Linked DNA regions of Homo sapiens: region 2 is linked to region 1. A link means that fine-mapping ties the variant in region 1 to the expression of a gene that starts in the linked region. Tissue or cell type: whole blood. Region 1 holds a variant in brackets; the other region holds the start of a gene. All regions are shown on one strand. Distances are between the middles of the regions.

What was found. PIP is the estimated chance that this variant, and not a neighbour inherited with it, causes the effect.
Region 2: it holds the start of MTA1, and the variant in region 1 is fine-mapped to the expression of MTA1 in whole blood (TOPMed, PIP 0.94).

Annotation. Positions count from the first base shown.
Region 1 is chr14:105,467,075-105,475,074 of GRCh38, forward strand. MTA1 (metastasis associated 1) reads left to right here. Exons shown (of 21, transcript NM_004689.4): 19 at 2,393-2,424; 20 at 2,767-2,918; 21 at 2,991-3,655. The coding sequence ends at 3,141. CRIP2 (cysteine rich protein 2) reads left to right here and starts at 7,747. Exons shown (of 8, transcript NM_001312.4): 1 at 7,747-7,831. The coding sequence starts at 7,789. RefSeq lists enhancers at 3,770-4,633, 6,189-6,721 and silencers at 6,750-6,799, 6,810-6,899, 6,990-7,139, 7,410-7,479, 7,660-7,769. The variant G/A (reference allele first, on the strand shown) is at 3,861.
Region 2 is chr14:105,415,585-105,423,584 of GRCh38, forward strand. MTA1 (metastasis associated 1) reads left to right here and starts at 4,243. Exons shown (of 21, transcript NM_004689.4): 1 at 4,243-4,479. The coding sequence starts at 4,452. MTA1-DT (MTA1 divergent transcript) reads right to left here and starts at 4,155. Exons shown (of 2, transcript NR_125385.1): 1 at 3,438-4,155; 2 at 1,997-2,725. RefSeq lists enhancers at 2,440-3,109, 5,788-6,455, 6,456-7,125 and silencers at 3,807-3,906, 3,937-3,986, 4,077-4,336.

The sequences.
Region 1 (8,000 bases):
GTGCTGTGCCTGCAATCCTTCCGTGCGCCTGCCAGGCGGGACAGTGGGGAGGGTGGTCGGGGGTGTCTGTGTGGGCCGTGGGCAACTGAGCTTGTACACATGGGTGCCTTCTGTCGGAGGACTGGCTCAGGTGCTCTGTGCCGGTTGCTTGGAGCAGGGGCTGCGGGACCCCAGGCCCCTTGGGGAAGAGCAGATAGGACCAAGCCTAGCATGAGGAGGCCAGGTGTGTGGGGCCCGGGTGTGCAAGTGCTGGGCCTGCCAGTGTGGATGTGCCTGGAGCCCCTTCGCCAGGCGGCTTTCACTGACGGTGCTGGCCAGGGCAGCAGGGCCGGTTTGGCGACCTGGAGGTGGATATGGGTAGTGGCTGCCCAGCCCAGCCAACCCTGTCCCCTTGGGGCATTCTCTCGAGGCTGCTGGGTGTCCTGGCAGGCACGTCCTGTGGGGTCAGCACGCCGGCTGCAGCGCAGGGTGGGCCTGAGATCGGGTGCCGGGCCCCCCATCTCCACCTGTCTGGACACGCACCCCTGGCCTGTCCTTGCAGCTTCCTCCCGACATCCCTTGGCGGTGTCTGTGTCTCGGCCCCAGCCCCAGCCCTCCTTTCCTGGGGCACCCTCCCAGCCATCTGGTATTGGGGCTGCCCCCATTGCCTAGTCCTGGGCCCAGGGCCAGCCCACTCTGGGCTGGCTTTACTTGTCTGTTCCTAATGGCAGGGCGTCCCAGGAACAGCCCCATAAGAGCTGGTAGAAACAGGAGGGAGTCCTTGTCAGCAGGCATCTTCGAGCTTTTTGTTTTGTTTTGTAAAAAGCGGTTAACCAGCAAGTTACATAAAAGCTTATTTGTTCCCACTGAATTTTCCACACCTCACACGTGAGTCCCAGCCATGCAGTGCTTGTGAGGGAGCATCACCCCTTGCCGCCTGGCTGGGCGGGGCCCTGGGCTCAGAGGGGTCAGCCACAGAGGAAGCGCCTGTCCTGACGTGTAGCGGCCAGGACCTGGGCGCTGGAGAGGGGCCAGCTGGGTGAAGACGGCTCCCGGGGGCACTGGCGCACACGAGGTGGGGTCTCTGTCCAGCCTGGGTAGGCATGAGCTGAGCTCGAGTGAGGGCCCTGCCTGCCCACAGCACGGGGCCCCAGCGCTCTAACCCGGCCATTTGCCCGTGCAGCCTGTTGCGCTGTCCCCACCTGCGGGGCCTGCAGATGGCTGCGTGTGGCTCACTAACCTAAAGCATGTGTTTCTTCCCTCTGCTGTCCACCGCTCTGGTAGGCACTTACCTGGGTAAGTAGTTTTTGTGCTACTGGCCAGCCCTGGGCGCTGGGCCTTGGCTTGTGGCAGGTGCCCTGAGGTATGGCTGTTCCTGCTTGGGAGCGCCGCAGATCAGGCACCTGGGCCCCCACCTGACCCTGCCCGGCAGAGCTAAGCAAACTGGCAGGGAAAGGCTGACCCAGGGCTCCAGGGCCCCAGTTGGCCCCCAGGGGAGTGCCCCAAGTTAGGAGGCAACTGCAGGTGGGGAGGGGCTGGACAGGCTGCTTCTGTTCCTTAAGGGATGGGCCTCAGCTAAGCAGCGTTTCTGGAGCTGGCAGGTTGCTCCGATGCCCCTGGGCCCTGGCACCTGACTGAGTTGAGTATGACATCCTGTCCTCTCTGAGCTGGTCCTGCTGGGAGCCGAGCCATCCTGGGACCAGCTCCCACATGCACACGCCCACACCTACACACAGGGCAGTGGGGAAGGGCAGTGAGTGGGGGAGGGCAGCGGCGGTCCTGGGCCCAGCTGGGGGTGACCAGGAGCATGGACCCCGCTTCTTGGCCCAACTCCCGCAGTGCCCCTTGGGCTCCTCACCCTGCACTGTGGGAAGTCAGAGGCCTCTGGCACCCCATCCCCAAGCACATGCCAGGGTGGCTGGGGCCCAGCCAGGGCAGTGGGTGGTGACCTGTTTCTGGCCGGGGCTGGCGGCTCTCTCAGAGCCTTAGGAAAAAGCCCGGCCTCCTGGTGGGGCAGTGCCGGCCACAGCGTGGCTGCCCTGCAGAGGGGCTTGTGCCGCTGCTGGACTGACAGCCTTGCGAGGCTTTGCTTGTCTCGGCACGGCAGGCAAGTGGGTGGACAGCCCCGGCCCCTGTGCAGGGAGGTGACTGTCGGGTCCAAGGCTCCTGGCCTCCTGCCTGGAGCCCAAGCCAATGTGTCTCTTGCTGGCCAGAGAGCTGTGGGGCCACCAGGCGGCCCAGGACCCGGGGATGCGAGGCCCCACGTCCCCCAGGCCCATCCTGGGTGTGGGCTGTGGCTTGGTTGGCAGATGGCCCCGGCCCATTGTCCCAAGGTGGCTGAGGCCGTGGTGGGCGGTGGGAGTGCAGGACGCGCTCTCTCGGGGCCTCATTTCTCTCCTCCATTTCTCATCAGGTCTGGCAAACCACGGACAGGCCAGGCACATGGTAAGAGGAACAACCCATGATGGGGTACGGTGCGCTCACCCATGAGCTCTCTGGGGTGTTGGGAAGAGGCCTGGCCAGCCCTGCCAGGTGCCACGTGGAAGCTTCCAGGAGGCCTGGCAAGACCAGAGGGGCTGCAGCATGTGGGGGCCATGGCCCCTGTGCCAGGCCCAGCGGTGTGCGGCCGACCAGCCCTCAGGGCTGCCCTGGGCCAGGCTGGGGGTCCGTGTAACTCACTGGGGTGGTGGGGGGTTGGCCAGGCACAGCACCTCCCAGCGGGAGCCCTGCAGGTTGAGGTGGAGCTGGCCCTTGGCTGGCTGCCCAGGAAGTGCACCCCCTCTGCAGGGACCAAGCCGGAACCTCCTGCTCAACGGGAAGTCCTACCCCACCAAAGTGCGCCTGATCCGGGGGGGCTCCCTGCCCCCAGTCAAGCGGCGGCGGATGAACTGGATCGACGCCCCGGATGACGTGTTCTACATGGCCACAGAGGAGACCAGGTGGGGCCTTCCCAGGGCAGGCGGGAGGGCTCCGCACAGCGTCCCGGCCCTCACCACCACCTCTGCCCACAGGAAGATCCGCAAGCTGCTCTCATCCTCGGAAACCAAGCGTGCTGCCCGCCGGCCCTACAAGCCCATCGCCCTGCGCCAGAGCCAGGCCCTGCCGCCGCGGCCACCGCCACCTGCGCCCGTCAACGACGAGCCCATCGTCATCGAGGACTAGGGGCCGCCCCCACCTGCGGCCGCCCCCCGCCCCTCGCCCGCCCACACGGCCCCTTCCCAGCCAGCCCGCCGCCCGCCCCTCAGTTTGGTAGTGCCCCACCTCCCGCCCTCACCTGCAGAGAAACGCGCTCCTTGGCGGACACTGGGGGAGGAGAGGAAGAAGCGCGGCTAACTTATTCCGAGAATGCCGAGGAGTTGTCGTTTTTAGCTTTGTGTTTACTTTTTGGCTGGAGCGGAGATGAGGGGCCACCCCGTGCCCCTGTGCTGCGGGGCCTTTTGCCCGGAGGCCGGGCCCTAAGGTTTTGTTGTGTTCTGTTGAAGGTGCCATTTTAAATTTTATTTTTATTACTTTTTTTGTAGATGAACTTGAGCTCTGTAACTTACACCTGGAATGTTAGGATCGTGCGGCCGCGGCCGGCCGAGCTGCCTGGCGGGGTTGGCCCTTGTCTTTTCAAGTAATTTTCATATTAAACAAAAACAAAGAAAAAAAATCTTATAAAAAGGAAAAAAACCAACCGGTCCTTCCCTGTGTCTTTTGTTCCCAGTCCCTCTCCCTGACTCAGGCCCTGGGCCCCCCACCCCCATCGGGCGGCCCTAGGCTGTGGCTCTGCCGTGGAGCTGGAGGCCCCTGGAGGCCACCTCAGCCAGGACAGCCACCCCAGCCTCTGGGCTCTGTTGCTCTCCCACCTGCCCACAGACCTTCCCCTGCTGGGGCCTGGC[G/A]CGGTGCCCTCTGCCCTCCCCAGGGGGCAGCAAGCGGTTGCAGGGCCCAACCCCCTTCCCCAGCAGAGCTGTGCTGAAACCGTCTGTGCGTCTGTGTCTGCGGCAGCGGTGGGCCGGGGACTGCCTCCCGGCAGGCAGAGCTGGCCCTGCCGAAGACCCTGTGGCTTCCCACCAGGGCAGCCAGTGCAGCTGGGCCAGCGAGGCCTTGGAGTGCTCCAGCCAGAGGCCCAACCTCCTGGCCATGTAGAGCCTGGCCCCAGCCGCCTGAGGGTTTCTGCCCAGAGCTCTGGCCCCCAAGCAGGTGTGCAGTCTCCACAGTGAGAATCTGCTTAGATTTCTGCAAGCACATTCTCAGAAATCCTGCTTGGCCCATCCTCCGGCCGGGGACAGGACTTGCAGGCCGGGGGACAGGTACAGGCCGGGCCACCAGAAGGAGGGGTCCGGTGGATAGCCTGGCTCCAGACCACCCCCCTGGCCGTGCTACCTCAGCCGGCCAGGAGGGGTCCGCCCAGGCCTCGCTCAGGGAGAGTAGCTCCTCTGTCTCTCCCCAGAGCTGTGCCTTTGCTCCCCCAGCCCACCCAGGCGCCCTGTCATGTGGAAATCTCAGCCACGGAATTAAAATAGAAACCACTTCTGCTGTCTCCCAGGAGACAAAGATAAGGGGGCGTCCTGGCCTCCGTGGGAGCCTGTGCTGGGGCCCAGCAGTGACAGGACTAGGTGTCAGGGACTCGGCTGCAGTGCACGTCCCACCCACCCTCCCTGGGCTGTGGCGCCCCCCCACCCAACCCCAGCCCCCACCAGCCAACTCTAATCTGCAGCCAGCATCCGAGTGACCCCACAGCCTGAGGACTTGCCTGTAGTGCGTCATCAGACGGCTGGGAAATCAGGCCCCTGACCTCATGAAGGACACAGCTCCCTCTGAGGCCTTTTCCAACCCTGGGGGTCTGGAGCTCAGTGAAGACCCCAGCTCCCTTGTCTCCCTTCCCCAGGCCTCGGGCTTGCCTCCCAGTGCTGGCTGCAGGGTTCTGGCCTCAGCAGCTCTTCCACCCCCCAGGGCCTGTCCTTTTCTGGAGTCAACATGTGGGCTGTGAGGTGTCCTAGGTCCTGGGCTCTATCCCAAGGGCAGGGAGGCCCTGAGGAGATGTGGGGCCCTTTCCCACCCCAGACACCCTCCCCGGCCAGACACCCAGGCTGCAGTGCCCTCACAGGGCCAAGCTCTGGCCACCGGTGCTGGGTGGGGCCTGGGCTGCTTGTGGGTCTAAACCTGGGCTTAGAAGTGAGTGGGTACCGGCTGGGGGGAGCATTGGCCTTGGTGCCCAGGCCATGAAGGGGTCTCCCAGCTTTGCTATGTCCTCGTTAGGCCCTTCCCTGCTGATGAGACAGCAGCCTGCTTTCTGCACCAGCAACCCCACAGGGGCCGCGGCTCCCCAGGGCCAGGGGCATCTCAGGGTGGCAAGGCCATCATGCTGTCATGCCTGGAGACCTGTCCTGCCAGCTCCGCTCCACCCTGCTAGGGTCCTCTGTCCACCACTCAGCCCAGCCTGGCTTCCCTGCAGTGGAGCTGAGTAGCAGGGGCCTGCTATCTGCCAGTGTCACAGGATGGCGGAAGGGACCAGACCACTGCAGCCCAGGGGTGTGACCCAGCCCCATGCCCAGCCATCAGCCCTGCCAGCTCCCTTCACACCCGCCGTGTCCTGTGCCCCCCTCTCCACTCGGGCCCGTCCCACTGTGTCACTGCCCCTGCCTGTGACCCACCGCAGCCTCAGAGGTGGAGACCAAGGCCACTGCTCTGCACCCATTGATCCTGACCCCTGCCTGCCAGGCCCAGAATAGCCCCGTCGCATTAGGGAGCTTCTGGCCGCTGCCCAGGGACTGCGGCTGGGGTGAGGGCAGTGCAGCAGCTGGCACACTCCTTGTCCCACCCCACCCTCCGTGTGTCTCCAGGGCACCTGGCCAGTGCCGAATGCCATTCCTTTGCTGCCACCCTGGGAGGGGCCTGCCTCTACCCCCATCCACTCTTCTGGCAGGGCTGGGGACCTTGGGGCAGGTGGTCTCCCTCCAGAAGAGCCCTGTGTTCAGCCAGCCCTGTCCTCCAGAGCAAGCCCCACAGGTAGCAAGCCCCACAGGTAGCAAAGTCAGGGAGGGTAATGGCTTAGCCCCAGGCTCCCAAGCTGGGCAGAACAGGGCAGGGAGCTGGAGAGGGTTTGGCAGTGGGCCCATGAATCCAGCCTGGGCAAGGCCCTGCTGTGAGGGACCCCTAGGGACCCCTGGGCCTGCCAGGGAGGAAGGGCTGCCCAGAAAAGGTACTGACTGATGCCTCCTCACCATCTTCTGCCTTGGCTGGCACAGGTCCCAAGTGCAGAGGGGGAGCTGGTCAGGCTGGTCAGTCGGGCGGGGGGGCGGGGGGCATGTTTCTGGCCTGCTGTCACCATGGAAATGGCAGTGGCTGCAGGGTGTGTGTGCAAGGGAGGAGGGTGCTGCCACAGAGAGCCCAGCCAGGACCACCATGAAAGCCAGGAGCACCGAGGGCCTCTGGTTGGCTCACAAACATGCCTGGTGCACCAGGCAGAGGGAACAGGTAGGTCTCCGTGTCCAGCCCACAGCCTCCAAGACACAGGGGGAAGGGTGTCCAGAGTCAGCTGCCCCCATAGGGCCTGATCACTGGGCTTCTGGGATCTGCCTGTCTCCCAGGCCGACGCTCAGCTGGGGCCAGAAGGCTCAGAGAAGGGCCCATGGGGACAGAGCACCAGGAAGCCCGTGGGTGCGGAGGTTCCCCACCTGGGGCCAGGCTCTACGGGGCTCTAGGGCGGAGGCACTGTGGTGAGGCGTGGTCAGGCACGCCCTGGTTGGGAGGAGGCCAGAGTGGGGGTGTGGGGGTGCGGTGACTGGCATGACCCCTCAATCTCCCGCCTGACCCCTCGAGGTCAGGCCCTGGGCCCCCAGGCACGCAGCTGGTCCTGGGCGGTGCGGGAGAAGGGACTGGAGTGTCAGCCCCAGCCCGGGGCACAGAGGGCACGCCCACTCCTTCCCCTCCTTCCCTTCCTAACTCCTCACCGCCTCCCCGGCCGCCCCCTGGGTGGAAGTGCTTGGGGTGGACGCCTTAAGCGCGGATCCCTCGGCGCTGGTGCCCGCCGCCCCTTCCCTGCCTGGGAGGCAGACGCAGACCTCCCCACACCCCCTACCAGCAGCTTCTCGAGCTGTTTCTGGAGGTGGCGGCGCCTTCCTTCCTGAGCCCTGCCCTCCACCCAAGGAGCCTTCAGCACCACAGACAGTGTTGGGGCGGGGCGCGGGCGGGGGCGGAGCGGGACATGGAGACCCGGACAGGGCTGGGGGCCGTGCCCGCCGGGAATCTGACTCCGCTCCCGCGGCGCGGCTGTTGCTATGGAAACCGAGCAACAAAGGGAAGCGGGACAGGCGCCGCGCGCGGCGGGGTGGGGGTGGGGTTCTCCCGGAGCCTGCGACCCCTTCCCGCGGCGGAGCGCAGCCTGGGCGCCCAGGGCCGGGAGTGTTGGACCCCTAGGCCCAAGTCACTAGGGCTCCCCGAGAGCCGAGGGCCAGGCTCCCCGCACCCTGCCCGCCGCCCCGGGGACGGCCCGGCCAGGCGGCCCCGACGTCGCCATGGAAACAGCCGGGGCGCGGGCGGCGCCGCGGTCGCCCGGGCGGGCCCCTGTAGACGCCACCTCCGGCGCGAGGGGCCCGGGGGCGCCAGGCCTGGCCCGGCTGCCCCGCACCCGCCACCCCCGGCAGGTGCGCCCCGCCCCCGCGGCGCCCCCAGGCGGCCCCCAGCCCGGGGGACGGGTTATCGAGGCCCCGCCCCGGCCGCGGAGCCAATGGGCGCGCGGACAGCCGGGCAGGCGGGGCTGGGCGCGGGCGGCGGCGGCCCGGAGGAGAACGGGCGGAGGGCGCGGGCCGACCGGGCGCACCGACCATGGCCTCCAAATGCCCCAAGTGCGACAAGACCGTGTACTTCGGTGAGTGCGTGCCCGCTCCCGGCCCGCTCGGTGCATCCCGCCGCCCTTCGCGGCCAGTCCCGCGCCGCAGAGCCGCGGCGTAACTCGGGGTGCGCCCGGCCCCGGCCCCGGACCGAGGATGCGCGTCCCGGAGGCTGGCTGGCCGCGCTGCCCAAGCGGCTAAAGCCAA
Region 2 (8,000 bases), 51 kb before region 1:
GCTTCTTCACCTCAAGTTTAAAAGTCTCCTTACGATGGCCGGGCGCCGTGGCTCAGGCCTGTAATCCCGGCACTTTGGGAAGCCAAGGCAGGCAGATCGCTTGAGCTCAGGAGTTGGAGAACAGCCTGGGCAACAAAGGGAAGCTCCATCCATACTGAAGATACAAAAATCAGCCGGGCGTGGTGGTGCTCTCCTGTAGTCCCAGCTACTTGGGAGGCTGAGGTGGGAGGATCGCTTGAGCTCAGGAAGTCGAGGCTGCAGTGAGCCGAGATAGGCCCACTGCACTTGAGCCTGGGTGACAGAGTGAGACCCTGTCTCCAAAAAAAAAAAAAAAAAAGTCTTCTACGATTATTTTTAGAAATTACAAAAACATCAAGAGATGAGTGTGTTTGGTTTACAGCAGCAAAGCACGGTTCGGCTGAGGCGGCACCGGCTGACTTCTGCCTGTGAATGGTGAGGAACTGGCACTGACATTTCCATATCCCCTGGCAGGGCATTTCTTACCAGAAGATCAAGGCTCACCGCCAGTATTTGACCCACTGAAAGTCTTTGTTTTGATTTACATCTTTACTGGCTGGACTTAAGATCAGTTTTTGTTGTTGTTGTTAGACAGGGTCTTGCTCTGCCACCCACGCCGCAGTGCAGAGGTGCTATCTCGGCTCACTGCGAACTATGCCTCTCAGGCCTAAGCTATCCTCCTGCCTCAGCCTCTCAAGTAGCAGGGACTACAGGCATGCACCACCACGCCCCGCTAATTTTTATATTTTTCAGTAGAGATGGGTTTTCACTATGTTGCCCAGGCTGGTCTCAAACTCCTGGGTTCAAGTGACCTGCCCAAAGTGCTGGAACTTCAGAGCCAGAGCCCTGGTTTTATACACTTTATTATGTTCCCCTCCCTGCTAGATTGCAAACCCTCTGAGGGCAAAGGTGCTGTTTCCTTACCCTCCAAGGCCTAGAGTGGCCTGTAGCTTGAAGTAGATGTTTAACAAATAATCAATGAGTAAATTATTGTGTTAATCACTTTGTCTTGCTCTGAAATTATCTCAAGCCTTTCATCTCCAAGTAACTTGATATTCTGCCCTTTGCTGTTTATGACTTGATCCAGCCACGGTGCGATTTTGGTGCTTCCGGTTTGCTTGGCTCTTAACTCTTCCTCCCATCCTGCTGTTTTGTCGTCAAGCATTTGAATTCCTGATTGTTGAATTCATGCTGCTATGAAGCTCTGAAAGAAGTCCTGTGGAGTCCTCTTCTGTTTCTTTGGTTGCGTTTTCTTATTTATTTATTTATTTATTTATTTATTTTTTATTTTTGTTTCTTTGAGACGGAGTCTCACTGTGCCGCCCCCAGGCTGGAGTGCAGTGGTGTGGTCTCGGCTCCTGGGTTCATGCAATTCTCCTGCCTCAGCCTCCGGAGTAGCTGGGACTACAGGCACGCGCTACCACACCCAGTTAATTTTTTTGTATTTTTAGTAGAGATGAGGTTTCACTATGTTGACCAGGCTGGTCTCGAACTCCTGACCTCAGGTGATCCTCCTGCCTTGGCCTCCCAAAGTGCTGGGATTACAGGCGTGAGCCACCACGCTCAGCCCAGTTGTGTTTTCTTCCATACTGGGTTTCTCACCGGCCCCTCACACCCTCGATGACTTGTTTTTCTGTTGTTGAATGACATGGATGTGGTCACGTGCCACCTCTCAGCAATGCTCCCACCTCAGCCTCCGGGGATATGCCACTACTTCTGTAGTGCTTTCTGACGTGAAAGCTCTTTCCTGAATGTCTATTCGCTCTGCTACTAAGTGGATGGAGTGGATGGATTTTTTTTTTTTTTTTTTTTTTGGAGACGGAGTCTCGCTCTGTCGCCCAGGCTGGAGTGCAGTGGCATGATCTCGGCTCACTGCAAGCTCCGCTTCCTGGGTTCACGCCATTCTTCTGCCTCAGCCTCCGGAGTAGCTGGGACTACAGGCGCCCGCCACCACGCCCAGCTAATTTTTTCTATTTTTAGTAGAGACGGGGTTTCACCGTGTTAGCCAGGATGGTCTCGACCTCCTGCTCGTGATCCTCCCGCCTCAGCCTCCCAAAGTGCTGGGATTACAGGCGTGAGCCACCGCACCCAGCTGGATTCTTCTTAATTCTTTGTTTTTATTGTTTGACTCACCTGAGGTCTTTGGACTTTGCCTCTGAGCTGGCTTAAGGGCAATCCACCTTGTTCACTGGTCTGGAGTGGGGAGGCAGAGTATGGGTCGGCTGGAGGAGTGGGGCTCTGTGCTCTCTTTTGAGAGTTTACTAAACGTCACTCTGCATGGTGAGGGGTGTGTCCTCTCCGCTGGGGAGGCCTGGCTTGAATTTCAGATTGCCTCCCTGGGACACCAGACCCTGTGCTGTGCTCCCTCAGAAGGACAGCCTTGACTGTCTCCACTCCAGCAGTCAGTTCTCTCCACTCCCACTGGGAGAAGGAGCAAAGGCTGGTGTCTTCAGGAGGCTCCTCTCCAGGCTGGGGCCAGGGAAGAGTGTGCATGTCACTGTCAGGATGTGTCCCAGTGGTGTGGCTGGGTTCTCAGGGTGAAGCTCGTCCATTTCTGGGATGGCAGCGGAAGCAGGCACTACACACGCAGCTTCAGGGGGCTCTCCCCATGCTTCCTAGCTGCCTGGCACTTTCTGGTGTTTCTGGCTAACTTTCTGGCCATGCCAGGAGTTGGTGGAAGGAGATCTCAGGCTGCAGCTTTGCTTTCCTGCTGAGGAGACAGAGGTAGGCTGGGGCTGTAGGACAGGGGAGGCCAGCAGCCCCACCTTCCTTCTGGAGAGACGCTGCCTGTCTGTCATTGCCCCTCTCCTGCACCTGGCCGCTGGCTGGCTGCTCTTCCCTCCCAATCACCAGCAAGCCAGCTCCTGTTCCCTGCAGCCCAGCCCGCAGGATGTGTCCTGGGACCCATAGCCCTCTCTCCCCAGAGACAGCACCGCCCTGCAGCTCGGGTTCCTGGCCCTGTGCTAACCCTGGTGGGGCTTTCCTTACTGGTCTGCTCTGCAGCCATGACATTGTGGCCACCGCTCTCCTTGGGACCCCCACCTGGCTTTCCTCCCAGCACATGCTGTTTCCTACCCACCTGGATGGTGTCCTGTGTGCTGGATTCCCCATGCTGTGTCCCCAGCATCCTGACCATGTCTGTCCCGCCTGCCTAGATCTTGCACCGTGGCCACGGGGCTCCCTCCTGATAGCCCTGAACGCTCCGCTCCATGTCCTACAGAGAGGGATGTCCCAAGTAGATGTCAGCTCCCTCCAGCATCTGAGCAGGCAGGACAGAGACCCACGGTGCTGCTCACATCAGCAGCCTGGAACCCCGAGACAGCTCCTTTTGCTCACCTCCCCCAACACTGATGTTGCACCTGTCTCCAAGCCACTCTGGGACCATCTGTTTCTCTCCATCTGGGAAGCCCCCTTCGCACCTCATGCTCTTCCTGGCTGGGGCGTCTGGGTCACTCACTGGACTCTCCTCTCCTTAGACCTGTGCACAAGCACACACGGGAAGGCATCCTGACAGGTGGTGGGAAGAGAAGGCAGCTGCCTCACTGCGGAAAGAGCACGGCCGCTCCTGGACTCCAGCCCTGTTGGGGCTGGCGGGGTCAGCAGGCGCTGGGTTCCAGCCTCAGGTGGGGTCTTTGGAGGTGGCCTCTGGGCACAGGCACCTCCTCTGCGGCCTTCTCACCAGGTCACGGTTCAGGGAGGCTTTGCCGGCTACGGAGCCTGCCCACACCAAGGCGCGCACGACCACCTGTCCAGAGATGCCACGCGGGCTGGGCGGCGAAGGCCAAGGACACGCCCTGCCTGGTGTCGGGGGCAAAGGTTAGGCCTGGAAGGGAGGTGTGGGGTGGGGACCCCGAGGCCAGGGCTGGGCCGCTGAGCTTCAGGGCCCTTGGGGGGCTCAGGGAGGAATGCCGGAGGACCCCAGCATCAGGAGGAACCCCTGGAGAGCTACGGCAGGACTCACCTGTGGGGCACAGGGAGGGATCACCAGGGAAATGGCCCTTGTGGAGGATCTCCCCTCTACCCCCAGGGCACCAGGGGAGGATCTACCAGGGGGTTCTGGTGGAAGGGCCCACCCGGGAAGCGGCGCGCGGGGAGGACTCGGGGGCGCCGAGAGGAACTGTCCGGGAAGGGGCGCGCGGGCCGCGGGCGGCGCGGGGTCGGTAACGGCCCGTGCGGTGGGCGGCGGCGCCCGAGGCCCCTCCCCGCCGCCCGCGGCCGCTCCTCCTCTTCCTCTCCCGCCCGCGCCGCGGCCCTCCCGTCCCTGCGCGGCCTCGGCGGCCTCGGCGGCGGCGGCGGCGGCGGCGGCGGCAGCAGCGCGGCCCCTTTAAACGCCTGCGGCGCCCCCCGCCCCCGCCATCGCGCCTCCATTTTCCCGGCCGCCCGCGCCGAGCGCCGCGCCCGCCCCGGGCCCCTCCGCCGCCGCCGGCCCGGACATGGCCGCCAACATGTACAGGGTCGGAGGTAAGGCCGCACCGCCTTTATGCCCGGCCCCGACCCGCCCGCAGCCCCCACCCGCCGCCGCTGCCGCCTCCCCCGCCCCTCTGCCCCGCAGGCCCCGCGCCCCCCGCCCGCCCTCGCGGCCCCCGGCTCCTTCCCGAACCGCCCCCCGCCGTGCTCACCCCAACCCAAAATGGCCCCGCGGGTCGGCCCCATCGGGGGCGGGCGGGGCTCGGCGGCCCGGGGGTGGGGGGCGGCCCACCTGTTGGGGCCGAGGGGGCGGCCGCGGGGGTGGCGGGGGGGCGCGGGGCCTGCGGGACATCCGGGGGTCCGGGGCCGGGAGCCCCCAGCGGGAGCACGTGGCCTTGGGAGGCGCCGGCTGCCGGTCTGGGAGCAGGAGTTTTGGGGCTGTGGGGTCTCCCCCGGCCCGCGGCCCTGTGCTGGGACTCCGGTGCATCCCCTCTGGGGATGGGGAGCCCCGGTGAGGGGCCACGTTCCTCCCTAGAGCCCTCCTGCAGCCTGGCCCCGGGGCTTCCCCCAGCAGGGATCCCTCAGGGGGTCTTCAGCAGGGAGCGAGCATCCCGAGCACGCCTCTAAGTCCCCCCAAACTTTTCCCTGCCTCTCGCTCACCTCAGCCCATTCGGGAGGCGCTTTGCAAGGGTTGGGGAGAGGCCGGAGGGCCTCCTGGGCAGGGGCTTCCTCCGTGGGCCCAGCCTCCTGTTGCTCGGGCCCCCCGGGCCTGCAGCTTTGAGCCTTGCCCTCCTTCGTGTGCCTGGGACTCCGTGGGGTCTTTCACAGGAAGGTGGGGGGTCGTGTGCATTCCATCATTCCATCAGCGCCTCCCTCCCCAGGACTCTGAGACCCCTCCCTGCCTGTGACCCTCTCGGGCAGGTGCTCATTACCTTTCCCACCTGCAGCCTGCGCTGCTGGAGGGAGCTGGGGTCACTCCCGCTCTGGCTTGATCCCCATGCCCCTGACCCCGAGTGCCCAGAACACTCTGTGTCTCTCGAGCGTGGCTTCTGCTGCCTTGGACGCCGTGTGGTCTGGCCGGCCAGTCCTGTGACCTTGGGGACGGTGGGAGCCCCCTACATCCCGTCTGTGAGATGGGCGGTCAGTCCGCATCAGCAGCTCTGGGCCTCCCCTGTCCTCTCAGAGGGGCGGTGGGCCTGTACCCCATCCAGCGGCAGCCCCTCCCACAGCCTCATACAGCTTTGCCAGGTCCCTGTGTGGACCCAGGTGCGCTGAGCCCACCCCACGCTCAGGGAGCAGCCTGGGTGCGGGGTCCCTCGAGGGAGGGGCCTGTTCCTTCCTGTTCTTTCTCCCCACCTGGAGACCCCCCTTCCAGCCTGACATGAGGGCCCAGTTTCTCACCCTGGCAGAGAGGATGCCTGCTGCCTGGGCTCCAGCCGGGCCCACTGCGCATGGTTTTGGGATTGGTCCCAAGAAGAGCTCTCCCTGCCCCCACCCATGTTGGGGGTGGGGAGTGGTGGCAGCTTTGGGCTCTAGGGCTGGGGACACCCCGACCCCAACTCATGCCTTCCTAGTGGCTGCATTGCTCGGCCTTCAGGCCTGCCTGCCTGTGATCTTGGCGCCAGCCTGGCTGCCCCCCCTCCAACCTTCCCATGCCTCGGTTTCCCCATGGTGTGGGTGAGGACCTCGTCTCTCAGCCGTCCTTTTGTGCCCTGTGGCAGCTGTGCTGTGGCTGATGAAAGCCAGGACCCTGCCTTGTCCCATCCCGGAGGTGCAGCTCCCCTGGGCCCCACACAGGCTTGGGAGGAGCCCTTCGTGGGGCTGCGCCGCCCTCCCCGAACCCTCTGTCCCCCTGTGCCCGCAGGCCCGTCCCAGGGCCTCACTGACCCACGCACTCCAGTGCTGTGAGGGTGGGTGGCCTGGACTCCTAGGCTGTGGCGGAGGGGCCCCACCATGCCTGGCAGAGATGCTGCTGGTCTCTTTTCCTGTGATGAGGAGCATGGGAGGTTGGGTGCTGTCTGCTGGCAGCACAGCCACGCGTGGGATCCAGACTGCTTCTGCGTGTGCAGTCCGTGGTCACTGTGGCCGGGTGTGCTCGGAGCTGTCAGGCCCCCCACGTGCCCGCCCCGAGGACTTCCTCTCCCTGCAGGTGAGACTGTAGGCCTCCCCCTCTCTACTCTGACTGTCCCTATAGGAGAAGCGGCATTTATCCCTGGCTTCTGGACCGGAACCCTGGGTTCCGGCAGGACCCCGGCAGAGCCCTGTGGTCGCAGTGGGCTGGGCATTGCAGGTTGGCTTCCTGTCTTGGTGCTCGCTCGGGGAGGTGGGCGTCTGGATTCTTGAGCCCCCAGACAAGAAAGAGGAAGGTGTGCAGTGTCTCCTGAGCAGCCTTTGTCCGTCTGTCGCCGGCTGCCTGGCACGGGCTCCATCTGGGTGGCCAGTCCTGGCCTGTGGGAGATGCCGGCAGGGACCCAGCCTGGGAAGGGGCTTGCTCCTGTGCCCCCCCACCCCAGGGACCTTGTGTGTAGAGGCACCAAATTTAGTTAAGAAAAGTACAGGACGCCCAGGCAAATTTGAGTTTCAGATAAACAGAAATTTATTAGTGTAAGTATGTCCCAAATATGGCATGGGACATACTTGTCCCAGAAGATTCTTATCTGACATTCACAGTTATCTGGGCAACCCGTATTTTAGCTGGCAGGCTACTCCGAGGCCCTGCCAGGTTGGGCTAGGCAGGGTGAAGGTGTGGTGGCAGTATTTTTGTGCCAGCTGAGCTGGGTGAAGTGGTGAGCAGGGAGGGAACAGGGCCTGTTTCTTCCCCATGGAGTGCCCTGGCCACGGACAGAGGCCTTCTGTCTGTGCCTGTGAGGGCAGCGGATGGCCTGGGCAAGGGTGGCGGGGTCAGGGTTCCCTGACCTCTGCTTCTCAAGGGTTGTCCATCCCGAGGGCTGGGGAAGGCTTGAAACCTGCTGTGGGATGAGAGGGCCCCAGGGCAACGGCGGGATGTTTCTTCTCTGGGTTGAACATGAAGATGTTAGATAGCATCCAAAACAGGACAGCAGGAATCGGTGCCTGCCAGCCGCCTGCAGCTTGCTCATGTGGGGCTTCTGCTTTTCAGTGGACAGGCCATTACCATTTTGCCTTGGGTGTTTCTGTTTTTCATTGCAAGAGGTTAACACCCCATCTTTTGGATTTTTTTTGTTTAATTTTTTTTTTTTTTTTTTTTTTGAGATGGAGTCTTGCTCTGTGGCCCAAGCTGGAGTGCAGAGGCGCGATTTCGGCTCACTGCAACCTCCGCCTCCCCGGCCCAAGCGATTTCCTGCCTCAGCCTCCCAAGTAGCTGGGACTAGCCAGGCGCCACCAGGCCTGGTTAAGTTTTACATTTTTAGTAGAGACGGCGTTTCTCCATGTTGGTCAGGCTGGTCTGGAACTCCTGACCTCAAGTGATCCACCCGCTTCGGCCTCCGAAAGTGCTGGGATTACAGGCGTGAGCTCATGCCCGGCCTTTTTGTTTTAATTTTAATAAAAGTTGAGGCTGGGTGACAGAGTGAGACTCCGTATCAAAAAAAAAAAAT